4 separate regions of the Homo sapiens genome follow, and all the other regions are reported to be linked to region 1. The links are microRNA targets in miRTarBase. Many come from high-throughput screens and were not tested one by one. Region 1 holds a microRNA gene; each other region holds the end of a gene's coding sequence.

The links. Region 1 holds the annotated microRNA hsa-miR-1225-5p (GUGGGUACGGCCCAGUGGGGGG, at 1,877-1,898, shown strand). A microRNA usually pairs through its seed, bases 2 to 8, with sites in the 3' UTR of a target mRNA and lowers its output. Matches are read on the target gene's strand: a 7mer-m8 pairs with bases 2 to 8, a 7mer-A1 pairs with bases 2 to 7 and ends in A, and an 8mer does both.
Region 2: the mRNA of POLR1G is a reported target of hsa-miR-1225-5p. Seed matches in the 3' UTR shown: 7mer-m8 at 2,142-2,148.
Region 3: miRTarBase lists FAM229B as a target of hsa-miR-1225-5p. The part of its 3' UTR that is shown has no 7-base or 8-base seed match.
Region 4: miRTarBase lists KCTD10 as a target of hsa-miR-1225-5p. Seed matches in the 3' UTR shown: 7mer-m8 at 3,858-3,864, 7mer-A1 at 4,115-4,121 and 7mer-A1 at 4,662-4,668.

What each region holds. Positions count from the first base shown.
Region 1 is chr16:2,088,161-2,092,160 of GRCh38, reverse strand. MIR1225 (microRNA 1225) reads left to right here and starts at 1,877; the gene lies at 1,877-1,966. It overlaps TSC2 (TSC complex subunit 2), which reads right to left. Exons shown (of 42, transcript NM_000548.5): 41 at 3,836-3,934; 42 at 2,670-3,715. The coding sequence ends at 3,551. It overlaps PKD1 (polycystin 1, transient receptor potential channel interacting), which reads left to right. Exons shown (of 46, transcript NM_001009944.3): 40 at 1-114; 41 at 255-380; 42 at 564-738; 43 at 987-1,277; 44 at 1,353-1,487; 45 at 1,571-1,876; 46 at 1,967-3,453. The coding sequence ends at 2,434. It overlaps PKD1-AS1 (PKD1 antisense RNA 1), which reads right to left and starts at 725. Exons shown (of 3, transcript NR_135175.1): 1 at 547-725.
Region 2 is chr19:45,408,746-45,412,745 of GRCh38, reverse strand. It overlaps POLR1G (RNA polymerase I subunit G), which reads right to left. Exons shown (of 3, transcript NM_012099.3): 3 at 2,009-4,000. The coding sequence ends at 3,245. It overlaps ERCC1 (ERCC excision repair 1, endonuclease non-catalytic subunit), which reads left to right. Exons shown (of 10, transcript NM_001983.4): 10 at 3,021-4,000. The coding sequence ends at 3,071. Among named protein-coding and RNA genes, the nearest start is that of POLR1G, 4.1 kb to the right of the region's middle.
Region 3 is chr6:112,099,277-112,105,538 of GRCh38, forward strand. FAM229B (family with sequence similarity 229 member B) reads left to right here. Exons shown (of 4, transcript NM_001033564.3): 3 at 1-132; 4 at 1,394-3,514. The coding sequence starts at 8. The coding sequence ends at 1,511. Among named protein-coding and RNA genes, the nearest start is that of FAM229B, 15 kb to the left of the region's middle. RefSeq lists an enhancer at 967-1,756.
Region 4 is chr12:109,447,196-109,453,457 of GRCh38, reverse strand. It overlaps KCTD10 (potassium channel tetramerization domain containing 10), which reads left to right. Exons shown (of 7, transcript NM_031954.5): 7 at 1,645-4,803. The coding sequence ends at 1,863. MYO1H (myosin IH) reads right to left here. Exons shown (of 32, transcript NM_001101421.4): 32 at 5,079-6,262. Among named protein-coding and RNA genes, the nearest start is that of KCTD10, 27 kb to the left of the region's middle.

The sequences.
Region 1 (4,000 bases):
GGTCCACACGTGCTCGGCCGCAGGAGGCTTCAGCACCAGCGATTACGACGTTGGCTGGGAGAGTCCTCACAATGGCTCGGGGACGTGGGCCTATTCAGCGCCGGATCTGCTGGGGTGAGCAGAGCGAGGGCCCCGGGCGTCTACGCCAAGGACAAGGGAGTAGTTCTCCAGGAGTGCCGCGGCCTCCTGACCAGCCTGGCTCCGGGGTGCCGGAAGGGCTGGGGTGCGGCACCCACGCCACCCCTCTCCGGCAGGGCATGGTCCTGGGGCTCCTGTGCCGTGTATGACAGCGGGGGCTACGTGCAGGAGCTGGGCCTGAGCCTGGAGGAGAGCCGCGACCGGCTGCGCTTCCTGCAGCTGCACAACTGGCTGGACAACAGGTGGGAGCTCCCTCCCCTGCCCTCTCCGGGGTGGCCGCAGTCACCAGCCAGGAGCCCACCCTCACTCCTCCGGCCCCCGCTGGCCTAGGCGGCTTCCACAGCCCCTCAGCCACGCCTGCACTGCGCGGTCCCCGCAGCTCCCGCCCTGCCACCCGCTCCTACTGACCCGCACCCTCTGCGCAGGAGCCGCGCTGTGTTCCTGGAGCTCACGCGCTACAGCCCGGCCGTGGGGCTGCACGCCGCCGTCACGCTGCGCCTCGAGTTCCCGGCGGCCGGCCGCGCCCTGGCCGCCCTCAGCGTCCGCCCCTTTGCGCTGCGCCGCCTCAGCGCGGGCCTCTCGCTGCCTCTGCTCACCTCGGTACGCCCGTCCCCGGCCAGACCCCGCGCCTCCCACCGGCAGCGTCCCGCCCCCTCGCGGGGCCCCGCCCCGGCAGCGTCTCACCCCTCGCAGCGCCCCGCCCCCTCGCAGCGTCCCGCCCCCTCGCAGGGCCCCGCCCCGGCAGCGTCCCGCCCCCTCGTAGGGCCCCGCCCCGGCAGCGTCCCGCCCCCTCGCAGGGCCCCGCCCCGGCAGCGTCCCTCCCGCCCTCCTGACCGCGCCCCCCACAGGTGTGCCTGCTGCTGTTCGCCGTGCACTTCGCCGTGGCCGAGGCCCGTACTTGGCACAGGGAAGGGCGCTGGCGCGTGCTGCGGCTCGGAGCCTGGGCGCGGTGGCTGCTGGTGGCGCTGACGGCGGCCACGGCACTGGTACGCCTCGCCCAGCTGGGTGCCGCTGACCGCCAGTGGACCCGTTTCGTGCGCGGCCGCCCGCGCCGCTTCACTAGCTTCGACCAGGTGGCGCAGCTGAGCTCCGCAGCCCGTGGCCTGGCGGCCTCGCTGCTCTTCCTGCTTTTGGTCAAGGTGAGGGCTGGGCCGGTGGGCGCGGGGCTGGGCGCACACCCCAGGGCTGCAAGCAGACAGATTTCTCGTCCGCAGGCTGCCCAGCAGCTACGCTTCGTGCGCCAGTGGTCCGTCTTTGGCAAGACATTATGCCGAGCTCTGCCAGAGCTCCTGGGGGTCACCTTGGGCCTGGTGGTGCTCGGGGTAGCCTACGCCCAGCTGGCCATCCTGGTAGGTGACTGCGCGGCCGGGGAGGGCGTCTTAGCTCAGCTCAGCTCAGCTGTACGCCCTCACTGGTGTCGCCTTCCCCGCAGCTCGTGTCTTCCTGTGTGGACTCCCTCTGGAGCGTGGCCCAGGCCCTGTTGGTGCTGTGCCCTGGGACTGGGCTCTCTACCCTGTGTCCTGCCGAGTCCTGGCACCTGTCACCCCTGCTGTGTGTGGGGCTCTGGGCACTGCGGCTGTGGGGCGCCCTACGGCTGGGGGCTGTTATTCTCCGCTGGCGCTACCACGCCTTGCGTGGAGAGCTGTACCGGCCGGCCTGGGAGCCCCAGGACTACGAGATGGTGGAGTTGTTCCTGCGCAGGCTGCGCCTCTGGATGGGCCTCAGCAAGGTCAAGGAGGTGGGTACGGCCCAGTGGGGGGGAGAGGGACACGCCCTGGGCTCTGCCCAGGGTGCAGCCGGACTGACTGAGCCCCTGTGCCGCCCCCAGTTCCGCCACAAAGTCCGCTTTGAAGGGATGGAGCCGCTGCCCTCTCGCTCCTCCAGGGGCTCCAAGGTATCCCCGGATGTGCCCCCACCCAGCGCTGGCTCCGATGCCTCGCACCCCTCCACCTCCTCCAGCCAGCTGGATGGGCTGAGCGTGAGCCTGGGCCGGCTGGGGACAAGGTGTGAGCCTGAGCCCTCCCGCCTCCAAGCCGTGTTCGAGGCCCTGCTCACCCAGTTTGACCGACTCAACCAGGCCACAGAGGACGTCTACCAGCTGGAGCAGCAGCTGCACAGCCTGCAAGGCCGCAGGAGCAGCCGGGCGCCCGCCGGATCTTCCCGTGGCCCATCCCCGGGCCTGCGGCCAGCACTGCCCAGCCGCCTTGCCCGGGCCAGTCGGGGTGTGGACCTGGCCACTGGCCCCAGCAGGACACCCCTTCGGGCCAAGAACAAGGTCCACCCCAGCAGCACTTAGTCCTCCTTCCTGGCGGGGGTGGGCCGTGGAGTCGGAGTGGACACCGCTCAGTATTACTTTCTGCCGCTGTCAAGGCCGAGGGCCAGGCAGAATGGCTGCACGTAGGTTCCCCAGAGAGCAGGCAGGGGCATCTGTCTGTCTGTGGGCTTCAGCACTTTAAAGAGGCTGTGTGGCCAACCAGGACCCAGGGTCCCCTCCCCAGCTCCCTTGGGAAGGACACAGCAGTATTGGACGGTTTCTAGCCTCTGAGATGCTAATTTATTTCCCCGAGTCCTCAGGTACAGCGGGCTGTGCCCGGCCCCACCCCCTGGGCAGATGTCCCCCACTGCTAAGGCTGCTGGCTTCAGGGAGGGTTAGCCTGCACCGCCGCCACCCTGCCCCTAAGTTATTACCTCTCCAGTTCCTACCGTACTCCCTGCACCGTCTCACTGTGTGTCTCGTGTCAGTAATTTATATGGTGTTAAAATGTGTATATTTTTGTATGTCACTATTTTCACTAGGGCTGAGGGGCCTGCGCCCAGAGCTGGCCTCCCCCAACACCTGCTGCGCTTGGTAGGTGTGGTGGCGTTATGGCAGCCCGGCTGCTGCTTGGATGCGAGCTTGGCCTTGGGCCGGTGCTGGGGGCACAGCTGTCTGCCAGGCACTCTCATCACCCCAGAGGCCTTGTCATCCTCCCTTGCCCCAGGCCAGGTAGCAAGAGAGCAGCGCCCAGGCCTGCTGGCATCAGGTCTGGGCAAGTAGCAGGACTAGGCATGTCAGAGGACCCCAGGGTGGTTAGAGGAAAAGACTCCTCCTGGGGGCTGGCTCCCAGGGTGGAGGAAGGTGACTGTGTGTGTGTGTGTGTGCGCGCGCGCACGCGCGAGTGTGCTGTATGGCCCAGGCAGCCTCAAGGCCCTCGGAGCTGGCTGTGCCTGCTTCTGTGTACCACTTCTGTGGGCATGGCCGCTTCTAGAGCCTCGACACCCCCCCAACCCCCGCACCAAGCAGACAAAGTCAATAAAAGAGCTGTCTGACTGCAATCTGTGCCTCTATGTCTGTGCACTGGGGTCAGGACTTTATTTATTTCACTGACAGGCAATACCGTCCAAGGCCAGTGCAGGAGGGAGGGCCCCGGCCTCACACAAACTCGGTGAAGTCCTCCACCGAGGAGATGAGGCGCTTCCGCTGGCCCACCTCATAGCCAGGTGTGGGCTCGGCTGGAGTCTGTGCAGGGGCTTTGCTATGGGACGGAGGGTGCACCAGAGGTAGGCTGGGGTTGGAGTAGGCGGCTTCCTCGCAGATCTGAAGGCAGAGGCGGCTTGGGCAGTAAGTCTGGGAGGCGTGGCAACCGCTCTGCCCACACACCCGCCCCACAGCTTGGGCAGCCAGCACACCCCGCTGAGGGAGCCCCATATTCCCTACCCGCTGGCGGAGCCGCTTGATGTGGCGGAGCCGGGCAATCCACTTGGAGGGGTAGATATCGGTGGGGTTGGAGCGGCTATGATGCACCTGTGAGGCCATCTGGGGACGTAGGCAGGGGGTGAGCTCACTATCAGGTGGCACCTGGGCCTGTCCCACCAGCTCACG
Region 2 (4,000 bases), not on the chromosome of region 1:
AAAAAAAAAAGAATAAAAGGCTTCTGCACAGCAAACATTCCACAAAGTGAAGAGACAACACACAGGATGGGAGAAAATATCTGCAAACTAACCATCTGACAAGGAATCAATAATCAGAAGATAAGAGTTCTAACAACTCTATAGGATAAAATATAATAATCCAATCAAAAAGTGGGCAAAATATTTGAATTAACATTTCTCAAAAGACATACAAATGGCAAGCAGGCATATGAAAAGGTGCTCAGCATCATTGATCATCAGAAAAATGCAAATCAAAACTACAGTGAGGCTGGGTGCAGTGGCTCATGCCTGTAATCCCAGCACTTTGGGAGGCCGAGGCGGGCAGATCACTTGAGGCCAGGAGTTCAAGATCAGCCTGGCCAACATGGCGAAACCCCATCTCTACTAAAAATATAAAAATTAGTTGGGTGTGGTGGCGCATGCTTGTAATCCCAGCTACTTGAGTGGCTGAGGCAGGAGAATCTCTTGAACCCGGGAGACGGAGGTTGCAGTGAGCTGAAATCACACCACTGCCCTCCAGCCTGGACAACAGAAGCAAAACTCCATCTCAAAAAAAACCAAAAATAGGCCGGGCATGGTGGCTCACGCCTGTAATCCCAACACTTTGGGAGGCCGAGGCGGGTGGATCGTGAGGTCAGGAGATTGAGACCATCATGGCTAACATGGTGAAACCCCGTCTCTACTAAAAATACAAAAAAAAATTAGCTGGGTGTGGTGGTGGGCACCTGTAGTCCCAGCTACTCGGGAGGCTGAGGCAGGAGAATGGCATGAACCTGGGAGGCAGAGCTTGCAGTGAGCCGAGATCATACCACTGCACTCCAGCCTGGGTGACAGAGTGAGACTCCATCTCAAAAAAGAAAACCAAAAACCAAAAATAAACTATAATGAGATACCATCTCAGCTCTATTAAAATGGCTTATTATTATTTTTTGAGATGGAGTCTCACTCTGTTGCCCAGGCTGGAGTGCAATGGCATGATCTCAGCTCACTGCAACCTCCGTCTCCTGGATCCAAGCGATTCTCCTGCCTCAGCCTCCTGAGTAGATGGGATTACAGGCACTCGCTACCATGCCCAGCTAGTTTTTGTATTTTTAGTAGAGATGGGGTTTCCCTAGGTTGGTCAGGCTGGTCTTGAACTCCTGACCTCTGGTGATCCACCCACCTCGGTCTCCCAAAGTGCCGGGATTACAGGTGTGAGCCATGGTGCCCGGCCTTAAAATGGCTTTTATCCAAAGGACAGGCAATAACAAATGGTGGACAGGCAATAACAAATGGTGGCGAGGATGTGAAGAAAAGGGAACCCTCATATACTTTTGATGGGAATGTAAATCAGTACAACCACTATGGAAAACAGTTTGGAGGCTCCTCTAAAAACTGAAAAGTTGAGGTTCCACATGATCCAGCAATCCCACTGCTGGGTATATCCCCAAAAAAAGGAAATCAGTGTATGGAACAGGTATCTGCACTCCTGTTTGTTGCAGCACAGTTCACATTGCCAAAACTTAGAACCAACCTGTGTCCATCAGCAGATGACCAGGCAAAGAAAATGTGGTACTTACACACAATGGATACTCTTCAGCCATAAAAAAGAATGAGATCCTGGCTGGGCGCGGTGGCTCACACCTCTAATCCCAGCACTTTGGGAGGCCGAGGCGGGCAGATCACTTGAGGCCAGAAGTTCAAGACCAGCCTGGCCAACGTGGTGAAACCTTGTCTCTACTAAAAATGAAAAAATGAGCTGGGTGTGGTGGCGCGTGCCTGTAATCACAACTACTTGGGAGGCTGAGGCAGGAGAATCGCTTGAATCCGGGAGGCGGAGGTTGCAGTGAGCCAAGATTGTGCCACTGCACTCCAGCCTGGGCGACAGAGCGAGACCCTTTTCAAAACAAAACAAAACAAAACAAAAAAAACATGAGATCCTGTCAATTACAACATAATGAACTGGGGATTATTATGTTAAGTGAAATAAGCCAGGCACAGAAAGACAAACATTGCATGTTCTTATTTATTTGTGTATCTAAAAATCAAAACAATTGAACTCATGGAGATAAGAGTGGATGGATAGTTCCTGGAGGCTGGGGAGGGTAGTTAGGGGCTGGCAGGGAGATGGGGAAGGTTAATGGGTACCACACACACACACACACACACACACACACACAAAGAAAGAATGAATAAGACATACTATTTGATAACACAACCAGGTGACTATAGTCAATAATAATGGTACATTTTAAAATAACTTGGCAGGGTGCGGTGGCTCACACCTGTTATCCTAGCACTTTGGGAGGTCAAGGCAGGTGGATCACGAGGTCAGGAGTTCGAGACCAGCCTGGCCAATATGGTGAAACCCCTGTCTCTACTAAAAATACAAAAATTAGCCGGGTATAGTGGTGGGCACCTTTAGGCCCAGCTACTCGGGAGGCTGAGGCAGGAGAATCGTTGGAACCCAGGAGGCGGAGGTTGCAGTGAGCCAAGATCACACCACTGCACTCCAGCCTGGGTGACACCAGGAGACTGTCTCAAAAAAATAATAATAACTTAGCCAGGCGCAGTGGCTCACACCTATAATCCCAGCACTGGGAGGCTGAGGCAGGCGCATCAGGAGGTCAGGAGATCGAGACCATCCTGGCTAACGTGGTGAAACCCCATCTCTACTAAAAAAAAATACAAAAAATTAGCTGGGCAGGGGCCTGTAGTCCCAGCTACTCAGGAGGCTGAGGCAGGAGAATGGCGTGAACCCGGGAGGCGGAGCTTGCAGTGAGCCGAGATTGCGCCACTGCACTCCAACCTGGGCGACAGAGCGAGACTCCATCTCAAAAAAAAAAAAAATAATAATAATAATAATAACTTAAAAAGATTGTAACTGGATTGTTTGTAACTCAATGGATAAATGCTTGAGGGTATAGGGGAAAATAAAGAACCAAAACCCCACTCTAGATTTACCCAGGAAACAGCTCCTTTAATGACTGGTTCCTCATTTTTTTCTCCCTCCCATCCAGGCCCGGAGGCTGTTTGATGTCCTGCACGAGCCCTTCTTGAAAGTACCCTGATGACCCCAGCTGCCAAGGAAACCCCCAGTGTAATAATAAATCGTCCTCCCAGGCCAGGCTCCTGCTGGCTGCGCTGGTGCAGTCTCTGGGGAGGGATTCTGGGGGTGTCACCTTCTGGTGGCCCAGGTGGGCACCTTCAGCTTTCTTTAGTTCCTCAGTTTCCCGGGGGCAGACTACACAGGCTGCTGCTGCTGCTGCTTCCGCTTCTTGTCCCGGCCTGTGGGAGCCTCCTCCCCAGACTCTGAATTCAGTGGCGGCCCTGGCATCTCCTCTTGGGGCACTGTCTCTGGCATCCGGCTTTCCTGACTCTGCTTCTTCCTCTTCTTGGTGGATCCCGGAGTTGCCCTGGCTTCAGGCTGTCCCTCCCCTGGCAGTTCAGGCTCTAGTGGCTGAATTGGCTCAGTCACTGTGTGACCTCTCTCTTTCTTCTTCTTCTTCTTCTTGGTGGATGTGGGAGCTGCCTGAGGCTCAAGGTCATCCGGCAGCTCAGGCCCCACCACCTCTGTCTCTGGCTCCACTGTGGCATCTTGCTGTTTTTCTTTCTTCGTCTTCTTTTTGGGAGCTGCCAGAGCTGCCTGGGCCTGAGGCTTCGCTCCTTCTGGCTGTTGAGGCGCCATGGTCCCCCCTGGGGACTCCAGAGGCTTCATCTCCGGCTCCACTGGCTCCATCGCCTCCGTCCCTGGCTCCATCATTGCCATCTGTCCCTTTTCTTTTTTCCTCTTCTTCGTAGGGGGCAGAGGGATGGCTTCCTCCAGTGGCTCCACCTTCACCTGTGGCTGAGACTCAACTGTCACCCCCTCCTCTGGCTCCATCCCTTCCGTCCCCTTTTGCCTCTTTCTCTTTTTGGTCGGGGACAGGACTGTGTCTTCTAGAGGCTCAGTGTTAATCTGTTCCTGCTTCACTGTCTTGTCTTCTGGCTCGAAGGTTTC
Region 3 (6,262 bases), not on the chromosome of region 1:
GTGAAGTATGCCTTTTCAATTTGGAACCCAGCCAAGGAGGTTTCCAGTGGAAGGAGGAGATTCTTCAATTGAGCTGGAACCTGGGCTGAGCTCCAGTGCTGCCTGTAATGGGAAGGAGATGTCACCAACCAGGTAAAGTCTTCTGTCCTCACAAGTGAGGAGATATGTATTGGCTATCATCAATACAACCTTCAGCTGATATTCATTATTAGCAAGAAAAAACTCTCAGCAATTCAAAAACATTGTTGTTTCTAAGTTAGCGTATTAACAGAGCCCAGTTTTCCTTAGTGTAGAGTCTGTATTTTGTATTTCTGTAAGTCTTGATGATAGAGCAATTCATTCTCTGTCTTTCTGGTACATTTTTAGCTATTAACAACAACAACAAAAACACAATTACCTTTGCACCAACCTAATAGATTGTTTTGTTGATAGCTTCACGATTAGATAACATTCAATTAAACAAACAAAACTTCAGTGCTAGTATGCACAGGGCACTGTGCTAGGCATAAGGCTAAAAATATGAAAAAGACTTAGACCTCAGAGTTAATGTCACTTTGGCTTTGATTAGTATCACTTTGGCTTTGCTGCGACCTTTGGCAGAAAGAGTGATATAGAATCTGAAGATTCTGTGAGACAAAGTGTTTTTGCAGAATGATTAGTTCCATTTCTCTGATGTTTACCATAGCAAAACCTTAAATACTACATTGTTAGATTCTCATGGCTTGGAAATTTTGGGAACACAGATTTAAGTTTAACAGGTGTAGGTATTTAAAAATCGGAGTTAGTCAAGGATAAAATGGGCTGCTTTGGGAAGTAGTGAGCTCCCGATCTTTAGAAATGCTAAAGGCTGAATGACTATTTGGTGGGAATGTTGGAAAGGAAATTCATATATTCGATGTATTTTTGAACTAGGTGTCATTTAAGGGCCATTTCAAATCTGAGATTCTATCAACATTTGAACAGTATGTGGAATACTATGTTCAGTTTTGTATTTTACCACAAACATTCTTGTTTTGAAATCACTCAACTAAGGTGATTTAGGGTGCAAATGCACATGAATTGCCACGGTATTGTCACTTATGTTTGTAACTATGCACTTTTGTTTTGCCATTTAGCAATCATTGCATACCTTTCAAAATCAACATCCGGAGGATTATCTTTGAATATATGAATTTCCTGTGATTAAATATGTACGTCAGAGGCCACAATTTCTTTGTTATATCCATCTAAAATGGGTGCCTCGTCAGCATCACCATGTTGTACTCATTGTATGACATTCAGAGATTTCAAAGTGATTTAAAACAGTTAAATATACAATCAAACTTTGGTGCTCTGAAAAAAAATATTTCCTCTTTTTAGTATCTAACTACATGTCATCTGCTTTTTTATTCAGGCAACTCCGGAGGTGCCCTGGAAGTCATTGCCTGACAATAACTGATGTTCCCGTCACTGTTTATGCAACAACGAGAAAGCCACCTGCACAAAGCAGCAAGGAAATGCATCCTAAATAGCACCATTAAGTCTTTTGTCAAGGTCTGACTAGGTCAAGGGTAATGGACCAGTATCATCTGGTGATCTGGTAAACAAATAAAAGTGGTGGCACCTTTAGATGATGACAACAGTTGAGCTCTTTACTTTTAGTAAGACCGACAGAAATGTAGTCAGTAAAGCACATGTAGTGATAGGCTATCAGTTATGTCTGATACATAAGACAGAATAATATTTCACAATTAGAAAGTACCTTAGAGATCATCTTGCTCACAGTAGATCATTAATATCAATAATTAAAGATGAAGCTTAATCCACCATGGTCATCAGTCAGGTGGGGCTTATTCTAAATGCTTAATGTGTCTTAAGCTCATTTCCTTGTTCATATTTGGGTTGCTACTTGGCTAAATCCTTTCACCTTAGTACCCTAAGCCAGTTTCCTGGCTTGATACTATTTGATAATGCTCTGCTCAGGAATGATTATATTGGGTGAGAAATGGAGCCCTGGGGTTGTGTGTTTTGGAACAGTATTCAAGATCAAAGAAAGTTCTTAGTCCATGGTTAATCTGCAAGGCATTTAAGCCACTTCCATAGAGGAGCCCAGATTGTTGGTTAAATATATTGATAATGAAGTCAAAGCTGTGGTTCCAACCCCGATTTTTCCAAGAAAAATGACGTCTGGTTATCACTTTGTACACGAAGTGCTAACCAGGTATCTTGATAAATTGTTTACAGTAGGTATTGAGAAACCTCATGTGGATTTTTTAATTTGGTTAGATGTGGGATCACTTTTGAGGATGAGGCCAGCTCTCTATGTTCTCTTTTTCTTCTTGCAGTAGTCCCCAGAAACTCAGTCTGCTTTCCTTTTCTCTCGATGGCTGTCAGCACCCATCTAATGAAATTGTCTTCTCCAAAAGACTGACTTTAGGATCAGATACAATTTTCACCAGTGTTTTTTGTCTACCTTGCTGCTTCTGAAAATATACATATAAGCCTTTTAAAATGAAAAGTTTATTAACTTATAATTAAATAGACGTAGATGCATATGTGTTGCATTAGGTGAAAAGAAAAACTGCCAGGGAGTTATAAGAGGAAAAACTCTCAGAGCTCACACTGAGCTGGGAGAAGTTTGAATGCCAACCAGTTAAAGTGGAAAGATCTTGAACATGTGGGGCATTGAGTAGAGACTCAGAAAGGTTGTACTTTCATAAGAGATCCAAACTGGAGCTAGACTAAAGGCTAATGTATACCAATTTTAAGAAAGCTTAAAAATAAGCCTTGAGAGACTCAAGATGATCTCTAAGTAACCTCATTTTATCTGCCAAATAAAAATAGAACATTCCTTAAAGGAAGAAAACAAAATCGAGGCAGGAAATTGCCTGAGGCTGGAGAAAAAATGACAGGAAGGAGAAAGGAGTGATGAAAAATTCCTCAGAGGGCTGGGCTTGGTGGCTCATGCCTGTAATCCTGGCACTTTGGGAGGCCGAAGTGGATGGATTATCTGAGGTCAGGCATTCGAAGCCAGCCTGGCCAACATGGTGAAACCCCGACTCTACTAAAAATACAAAAATTAGTCGGGTATGATGGGCAGGTGCCTGTAATTCCAGCTACTTGGGAGGCTGAGGCAGGAAAATAGCTTGAACCCAGGAGGCAGAGGTTGCAGTGAGCTGAGATTGCATCACTGTGCTCCAGCCTAGGCAACAGAGTGAGACTTTGTCTCAAAAAAAAAGAAAAACAAAGAAAAATTCCTCAGAGCTCATACAAGGCTGGGTAGAATATGTGTTTCAACAATAGTGGATCTTTTAATATAGTACATGGATCATTGAGTAGAGTCTTCAGCAAAATATTGGCAAAGTAGGGTTAGGGTTAGGTTAGGGAGATGGGAATAGACTGAAGACTACTCTGGACTTGCCCTAACAGAGTTTAAGAGCAACATTTGAAAGGATCAAACTGATTTCAAGTAACTTGAGTGCATCCAAGGGGAGAAAACCCATCAAAATAAAAATAAAAACTACAATAAAATCCAGCACCAAAAGTGTAACATTCACAATGATTAGCATCTAATAAAAAGTTACCAGGCATGAAAAAAAAAAGGAAAAGGCAATCCACAGTCAAGAGAATCTTTAGTCAATGGTAATAGACTGAGAATGACAGATGATGGCATTAGTAAATGATATGGTTTGGCTCTGCGTCCCAACGCAAATCTCATGTTGAATTGTAACCCCCAGTGTTGGGGGAGGGACCTGATAGGAGGTGACTGGATTATGGTGAACACCTATATGGATATGAATATGGAGTATTCTCCATGGATATGGAGAACACCCCTTGGTGTTCTCATAATAGTGAATGAGTTCTCATGAGATCTGGTTGTTTAAAAGCGTGTAGCACTTCCTTCTTTTCCCTCTGTGTCTCCTGCTCCACCATGGTAAGATGTGCTTGCTTCCCTTTGCCTTCTGCCATTGTAAGTTTCCTGAGGCCTCCTAGCCATGCTTCCTGTTAAGCCTGTGGAACTGCATCATTTAAACCTCCTTTCTTCCTAAATTACACAGTCTCAGGTAGTTCTTTATAGCAGTGTGAAAATGGACAAATACAGTAGATCAGCTACCATAAATATCGTTCAAGTAGTAGATAAAAACATAATGAAGAAATAAATGGAAGGTATAAAAATGACCCAAATAGAACTTTTAGAGATGAAAAATACAATATCTGAAGTAAGAATATACACTGAATAGGATTAAGAGATTAGATACTGGAGAAGAAAATATTAATGAACTTGAATATATAGCTATATAAATTATCCAACATTAAGTACAAAGAAAAAAGCGTATAAGTTTTGTGTTTCATTATCAAGCAGTCTAATATATATGTAAGTGGCTTCTCAGAAGAATGGAGGGGGATAGAAAAATATTTGAAGAAATAATGGTCAAATTTTCCCCCAATTTGATGAAAACTATAAACTCACAGATCCAAGTATCTTAACCAACCCTAAGGAGAAGCAACATGAAAACAAAACAATGACATGTCCTAATTAAATTGAAGAGAAAAATCTTAAAACTTGATAGTAAATGACACATGCATTCAGAGAAAGAAACATAAGAATGAGAGCACACTTTTCATCAGAAGATATGAAGGCAAAAAGGCAATGGAGCAGTATCTTTAAAGTATCTTTCAAAAATGAAGGTGAAGTAAAGACTTTTCAGCCAAACAAATGCTGAGAGAATTAATCACTAGCAGATCTACACTATAAAAAATGTTCAAGGAAGTTTTTCAGGCAGAAAGAAAATGGTACTAGATGGAAATTTGGATCTTTAGAAAGAAAGAACACAAGAAATGGAAAATATGTGGATAAATATATAGGCTTTAAAATTTTTTAAGCACTAATAGATAACCGTTTAAGGCAAACTATGGCAATGATATTTTATGTAAAAGTATAATGTATAATACTAGCAAAAAAACAAAGGAGGAGGAAAATAGAAGTTTACTTTTGTAATTCTTAGACTATTTGTGAAATGACATAATGGTATTTGACAATAGACTGATGAAGTAAAACTTGAGTTATCTCTAAAACCTAACAAACAGAGTTAGAGCTAATACAGTAGCTCTAATTATTGTATGGTGGAGAGTAAATGTAATAAATATTACTCATTTAATTCTAAAGAAGACAGGAAAAGAGGAAAGAAGGAACAAAGATAATACATTTAAACCATATGATATTGATATTTGCATTAATTACAGAAGGTCTAAATTTCAGTTAAAAGGCAGAGATTATCAGATTGGCTAGAAAAGAAGATGCAACTATGAGCTGTCTACATGAGCCCACCTTAAATACTAAGACTCAGATAAATTAAAAGTATAAAAGGATAGAAATAGATATGCCATGCAGACATTAATCTGAAGAAAGCTGGAGTAGCTATGTTAATAATAGACAAGAAGATTTCAGAGCAAAGAATTTACAGAGGTAAAGAGAGACAATTCATAATGATAAAGGGGTCAAGACATCAAGAATACCTAACAATCTTAAATGTTTATGCCAGAGCTTCAAAGTACATGAAGCAAAAACTGATGCAATTGAAAGAAGAACTAACTCCACATTTGTAGTTCAGGATTTCAGCTGGTAGAACAAGTAAACAGAATCAGTAGGGATATAGAGGACATGACAATTGATATAGAACACTTTACCTAGGAACAGCAGAATACTGTATATTCTTTTCAAGTGCACATGGAAAATTTACCAAGTAGAACATATTGTAGGCCACAAAACAAGTTTCAATAAATTGAAAAGTATTCAAAGTATGGAAGGGTAGGCAAAGTATGTCCTACAGTAGAATTAAATTATAAGTTAACAATAGAAAGATACCTAGAGAATCTCCAAATATTGGAATACTAAGTGATACACTTCTGAATAACCCATGAATAAAAGAAGAAATGACTGAATAAATTAGAAAGTGCTTTGAACTGGATGAAAACAAAAACACAGCATATCAAAATGCATGGGTAGCGCTTAGAGAGAATTAAGGCAATAAATTATTTCATTAGAAAAGAAGAAACATCTCAAGGCAATGATCTAAGCTTCTACCTTAAGAAAACAGAAAAAAATGAGCAAACTAAATCCAAAATAAGCAGAAAGAAAGAAGTAATAAAGAGCAGAAACAATGATATAAGAGCAGATAAATAATAGAGAAAATCAATAGAAACAAAAGCTGGTTCTTAAAAAAGATCAATAAAATTGATAAACCTCTAGGTAGAATTATCAGGAAATAAAAAGACACAAATT
Region 4 (6,262 bases), not on the chromosome of region 1:
CTTTGGGAGGCCAAAGCAGAAGGATTGCTTGAGTCCAGGAGTTTAAGACCAGCCTGGGCAACATAGCAACACCCCTGTCTCTACCAAAAATTTTTTAAAAAATAGCTGGGCATGGTGGTGTGTGCCTGTAGTCTAAACTACTTGGGAGGCTGAGGTGGGAGAATCATTTAAGCCCAGTAGTTCAAGACCAGCCTGGGCAACATAGCAACACACTCATCTCTACAAAAAGTTAGTTGGGCATGGTGATGCATGCCTATAGTCTCAACTACTTGGGGAGGCTGAGGTGGGAGAATCATTTGAGCCTAGGCGTTCAAGGCTGCAGTGAGCTATGATTGTGCCACTGCACTCCAGCCTGGGTGACAGAGCAACACTCCCTCTCAAAACAAAAAAGAGAAAAGAAAGAGGCCCTTGGACTCCCGTCCTGGCTCTGCCCCTAACCAGCTTCACAAACACAAGAACACGCCACTCCTGAACCTGGTCTGTGAATCAAGAAACAGTTGGGATCAGACCATGTGGTCTCTAAATCCCCTTGCTCCTTATTAAGCTCTAAAAATGAGAAGTCTTAAAATTTTAAAGCTTAATTAGCCAGATCCCATATCTTTTAAAAAAAAAGGAAAGAAAACCAGGATTTCCTCCCAGCCTCTCTGCCTGTTAGACTCTGTTGGCCTCCCTGGCCACTAGAGACCTTCTGGAGGTCTTCTGTCCTGGTGCCATTTCAGGGTTTCAGGCTGCATCAGTGCTGGCAGCAGCAAACAGTAAACTCACTGTTGGGCATTACTCCAAATTCTGTTGTTTCCCCCATCTGCCTGCCATGATTTACTTCTGAGTCCACAGTTAGCTGCTGTGTGCATCCCATTCTGGCTTTGTAGTGTCAGTGAGGAAGACGGGGTAGAGTGTGCCTGCTCCATTTTTCCCAGAACCTCCGAATTCCACCCTGAAAGTGGAGTCTAGTCTGATCAAATGTGTGGGACCTGCTTATGTGGCCCTCTTCCTGTTCATCACACCTTAACCCTGAAGGGCAATGAGCAAACACAATGATTTGCCAAACAGCAGAAGGGCTCATGCCCATTTCGTGGGAGTCCCCAGCTGGACCCTGTACAAAAAACTGCTTTAGAGACTGCTTTAAGGTGTGGAAGGACTTCTGTGCAAGGTTGCAGCTCTGTTAGGAGAAGCATATTAGCACTGACCTAAATGGCCATCCAAGTATGGTTAATTGCATTGTCGTATTTATAATTCCTTGATACAGAATGATCTCTAGGTTAAGTTAGGCACAAGAGGAAGACATGTACAACTCTGTGTGGTGGGCCACCTTGTGTGTTTTTTGAAGTGTGTGAATAAATATGTGTATTACACATATTTACATGCACAGAATCTTTGAGAGGGTAAAATGATGAGAAACTGTACCTTTAAGAAGGGAAACTAGGGGCAGGGAGACCTGTTTCTCTGCATCCCCTTGATTTTCTGTGCATTTAGCACCACATGTAAGTGTTGCCATTGAAAATATCAGTTTATTTAAAAATAATACTGGTGGCCTTCAGCAGAATCCCAGGGGCCTGATTTAGCCTGGCGGCCCTGCTTAAAGTCCAGGTGTTGGCAGAGGGGGTGGGCCATAACTTACCTGCCCTGTATACTGTGGGAACACAGGTGGAGTTTCCCGAAGCCCGGATTTATGAGGAGACCCTGAACATTTTGCTGTATGAGGCCCAGGATGGCCGGGGACCTGACAATGCGCTCCTGGAGGCCACAGGCGGGGCGGCGGGGCGCTCCCACCACCTGGACGAGGACGAGGAGCGGGAGCGGATCGAGCGCGTGCGGAGGATCCACATCAAGCGCCCTGATGACCGGGCCCACCTCCACCAGTGAGCAGGCAAGAGACCGAGCCGCCCTCCTCTCACCGCCCCCACTCCCTGCCGTGCTACACCCAGATCCTGTGCAGGCTGCCGGGCCCCTTCTGCTTCCCTTGGAGCCTGGAGATACTTTTGTAACAAGCCAGATGATTATTTTGGTATTGCTTGACAAGGCAAATTGATTGTCTTGACCCAGGCGTATGACCCCTGTCGTTGAACAAGCTGTGTCTAAGATCTCTACTTTTCATGAGAATCTGAGACTCTTTGGAGCCAGGCTTTCTCGGTTCTCAGAGGAAAAGTATGAATGAGTGTGAAGTGTATGTGAGAACTTTTGTTTGCAATATTTATTTTTGTGGGTGTCGACTTCCTATGTGGGCTTTTTGGGTGACACTCCCTTAAGGGTTCAGTTTGACAATTCTGAGAGTTGTCCTGCAGTTGGAGGCCACCAGAGGTATCTGAGCTCCCTGCTTCCTATTTCATAATCCTCCAGCCCCAGCAGGTCCACTCCTGGTTCCTGTGTGTTTGGCCCGGGCACAATCCCCACTGCTTTGCTAGACGTGCTTTCTGCCATGTGGCTTTGGGCCTAGAGCTTGTTGATAATTGCAGCTTGTGGCAGTGGAAATATGGCTGAATGAGCGTCTAAATCGTTGAGACCAGTGCAACTTTGGGTGCAAGGCTTTGTTTAGGGATCAAGCCTTTTGCCACCTTGGGCTGGTCTTTGGCCTGGTGCTCACTGGGACCCCATATGTCTGCGTAGGAGCAGAACTTTCCATGGCAGTAAGTGTCCAGCTCTGTTTCTGGTTCTTTCCCCAACTCCAGCCCCGTCCAGTTGTTCTCCTGATTGACCCGACTCCACTCCAGGAAGGCCATCTGACCCTGTGACAGGCATAGCTCATAAACTACCCCTCCCTGGGATCCCGCTCCTCTTCAGCCTCCTTCCCCATGAAGCTGGGCTAACTTTCTAAGTCATTTTGCTTAGAAATTCAGTGTGGCCCATACCCTTTGTCCTCCCAGCCTGGCATCCAGGCAGGGACACCCTCACACCACCAGCCCCAGGGAGCTTCCCTGCTATAAACACAGACCCCCTTGTCTTTGCCTCTGATTTTTACACAGTGTAGAGTGGCCAGCAGTGAACAGGTTGAGGATGTGCGGGTAGATAGATAACTTTGGGTCTGGTTTGTGTCTGTGTTCATGTTTGTTTAAGGGATATGTGTGACTGTGGGTGGGGACGTGTGCTTGTGGGGCACAGGTGGCGGCCCCTGCTGGAGCCCGGCTGGGCGCAGCGCCTATGTAGGACGGGTGTTCTCAGTGACCTACCTCCCAGGCTCCTCTGCACCTGCAAAGGAACAGGAGTGAGTCGTGACTGACAGGGGTGGTTGAGACTAGACTAGGTAGAGTAGTTACCAGGAGATGTGAATGTGCGTCAGGTGATGGATGGGTTTGTCAAGGGAATCGTTACCGTTTTATACCAAAGGTATTAACATGGGCAGCCTTTGACACATGTATTCCAAAAACGAGTTTATATTTTCAAACGGTTTTTACAGCTTAGACTTTGTACTTACTGCCCTGCCTGTGACAGTTGTATGCCTTCATTTTGTATCCAACAGCAAAGTCTACAATAAAACTTTAAAACAATCATGACTGAATGTCAAAATCGTGTATTGGGCAGATGCTTTTTAAACTGTCGTGTGAGAAACTTTTATATTAGGCCATTTGGATTTTATTAAGTGCTAAGGAAAGAGGGCTTACAAAATGTTTCGTAAATATTTTATACTGTTTAAGTGTTAAACACCAACCCTGTCTTTCTTTTGGGTTGAGCTTTTTTAGAAAGTCGAAGTGAATGTTGGCCAGGAAAATGGAAAAGCCATTGTATAAATTTTTTTTTGAGGCGGAGTCTTGCTCTATTGGCCAGGCTGGAGTGTAGTGGCACCATCTCCACTTACCACAACTTGTGCCTCCTGGGTTCAAGCGATTCTGCTGCCTCAGCCTCCCGAGTAGCTGGGATTGCAGGTACCCATCAGCCCATGCCCAGCTAATTTTGTATTTTTAGTAGAGATGGGGTTTCACCATGTTGGCCAGGCTGGTCTTGAACTCCTGACCCTGTGATCCGACCACCTTGGCCTCCCAAAGTGCTGGGATTACAGGTGTGAGTCACCACACCTGGCTGCATAGTGTTTTAAATGTTTGTGTGAAGAATGAGTTTGTGGAACAATTTGATTTGCTGTGGCCTCTATGCCTAATGAGCTAGTGTTTCTGGCAGCTCTCTCTACCCAACTTTGCACTTGTAGTTTTGAGTCTTTGTCTCTCTGGAATATGAACAGGTTTATAAAACATTCCATGGTGAACAATTCTGTCGGCTGCATTATAGCCATGAGTGAATAGACAGCATTGGCTGGTCCAAGCTCTGTTATTGAGTATACAAGGAACTGATTTTTCTTATGTTAGCACTAAGGGCAAAAACCAATATTTATAATGTAAGCACTATCCAGGTAAAACACTGGCCCAAGATTTGGTAAAGAGATTTCATTGCAATGTAATAACTACAGTTTTTTACAAATTGGAACAGCTTTGGTGTGTCGTAATCAAGGGTTTTTTTTGTTTGTTTGTTTCAAATAAGCCATCTGATTGTGGTGACTGGGGCCCATGTCCAAGACAATTCCTGGCATATTCTGTCACCCTCCCGTGGGGCGATCACTGTGTGGGGACCCCATTCCCCAGTTAAAGTGTGTCTCTGTACCTTACAACAGCGATTCAGGACCCAAGTGTGAACAACACTCAGCCCGCCCTCTGGAGCGTGTGCTGTCTTTAGGGCCCTACCCAAAGTCACTGTAACAGTTAAGTGTGTCATTAACCTTTCTGTCTCTTTGCGCCATAAAAAAATGCTCAAAGTTTTAGATGTAGCCACTGTATGTTGTACAAACGTTGGCGACATGTAAAATAAAAGTCATAAAATGCTTCTGTTTTCTGGCTCTTTTCAGGCATGCCCGGCATAACCAGGCCCCTAAAATCGGTTTACAACAAAGGCAGGGCCCCCACGTTCTGCCTCAGCCCCTTAAAGTCGCTCCAGGTGGAAGGGAAAAGACAGTCATGTTTCTGTAGTGTTTGTTTGAATTCAAACACCAAAAGGAAGTCTTGGGGTCAAAGGCTGCCTGGCTCATGAAAAAGTGAATCAGCTGGTGTTACCACTGATTTGCTATTATGGGGCAGAGGGCTTCAGTTCACCAAACCCAATCCCTTGACACATGTGAGTTCCATTTATTTAAAGCAAAATTCAAATTTCACAGCTTTAGGAAATTTCCTTTACTTAGTCTCAGACCATGCACAGTAAGTCATCGATAGGTTCTTGGAAGCTGAGACTTGAAGCAAAACCATGAGGCTAATGGATGTAAACAAGAGTTAAATTCCTACAGCATGTTGCTGGGCACAAAAACATCACCCAATTTCTAAATAAAGACCAAAGCACTTCTCATATTAAACTGTGAAATACATGAGCTACACGTATATTTAATTAAATCAAAAATAAGACCATATTACCTAAGTTTTGGTGAATCGGTAAGTGATGGTGGTCACAGTGGTGGCCGCATACATCAGTAAATAAACGCTTGCAAAGGTGAGATTATACGGAGCCCCTCCCCAGTCACAAGCGTGGCAGGCTCGCTACACGCTTTTGCGCTGTGGCATTTATTGTCCATTTGTGTGCTCATATGCTTTATATACATTTTTATTTTACAATAAAATTTGTATTCATTCGTTCTCCAACCTGCACGTTCAGGGTTGCAGATGGCCAGAGCCCAATCCCAGCAGCTCAGGGCAGAAGGCGGGACCCACCCTGGACAGGATGTCCTCCTCTCACGGGGCTCACGCACCCACACTCACTCAGACTGGGACCGCATAGACACGCCAGTGCACCTGACACACACACCTTGGGGACGTGGGAGGAAACCAGAGCACCCAGAAGAAACCCAGAGACATGGGGAGAACATACAGACTCCACCCAGACAGTGGCCCTGCCCAGGAATCAGATGTCTTATCAACATATAACGAAATGTTATTTGAGAACTTGCTGTACACAGTATTTCATCATGTCTCAGGGCAGCTTGACAGAGGTAGAGAATCTTGCCCACCCTCTAATGACACGTTGGACTGCGCACTGAACATAGATCCTGTCGAGGGTGTTTAGAATTGCGCCTTCGGGTGACCTGGGGTCTGCTTCCAGAAGGTGACATTTTAAATAAGGTGCCATGGGGCAGCTGAGGAGCTGGGATTAGGCTTTGGCCTAACGCCCCTCAGTTTCTTCAGATGTGATCTGTTAGTGCTGCGGGCCTGGTACCTTGAAGAGGTAGCTAACTGGATCCAATCCCCACTTCCCCTGTAGTTTCCTCAGTTGGAGCAAAAATGGCGATGGTAGAGGTCAG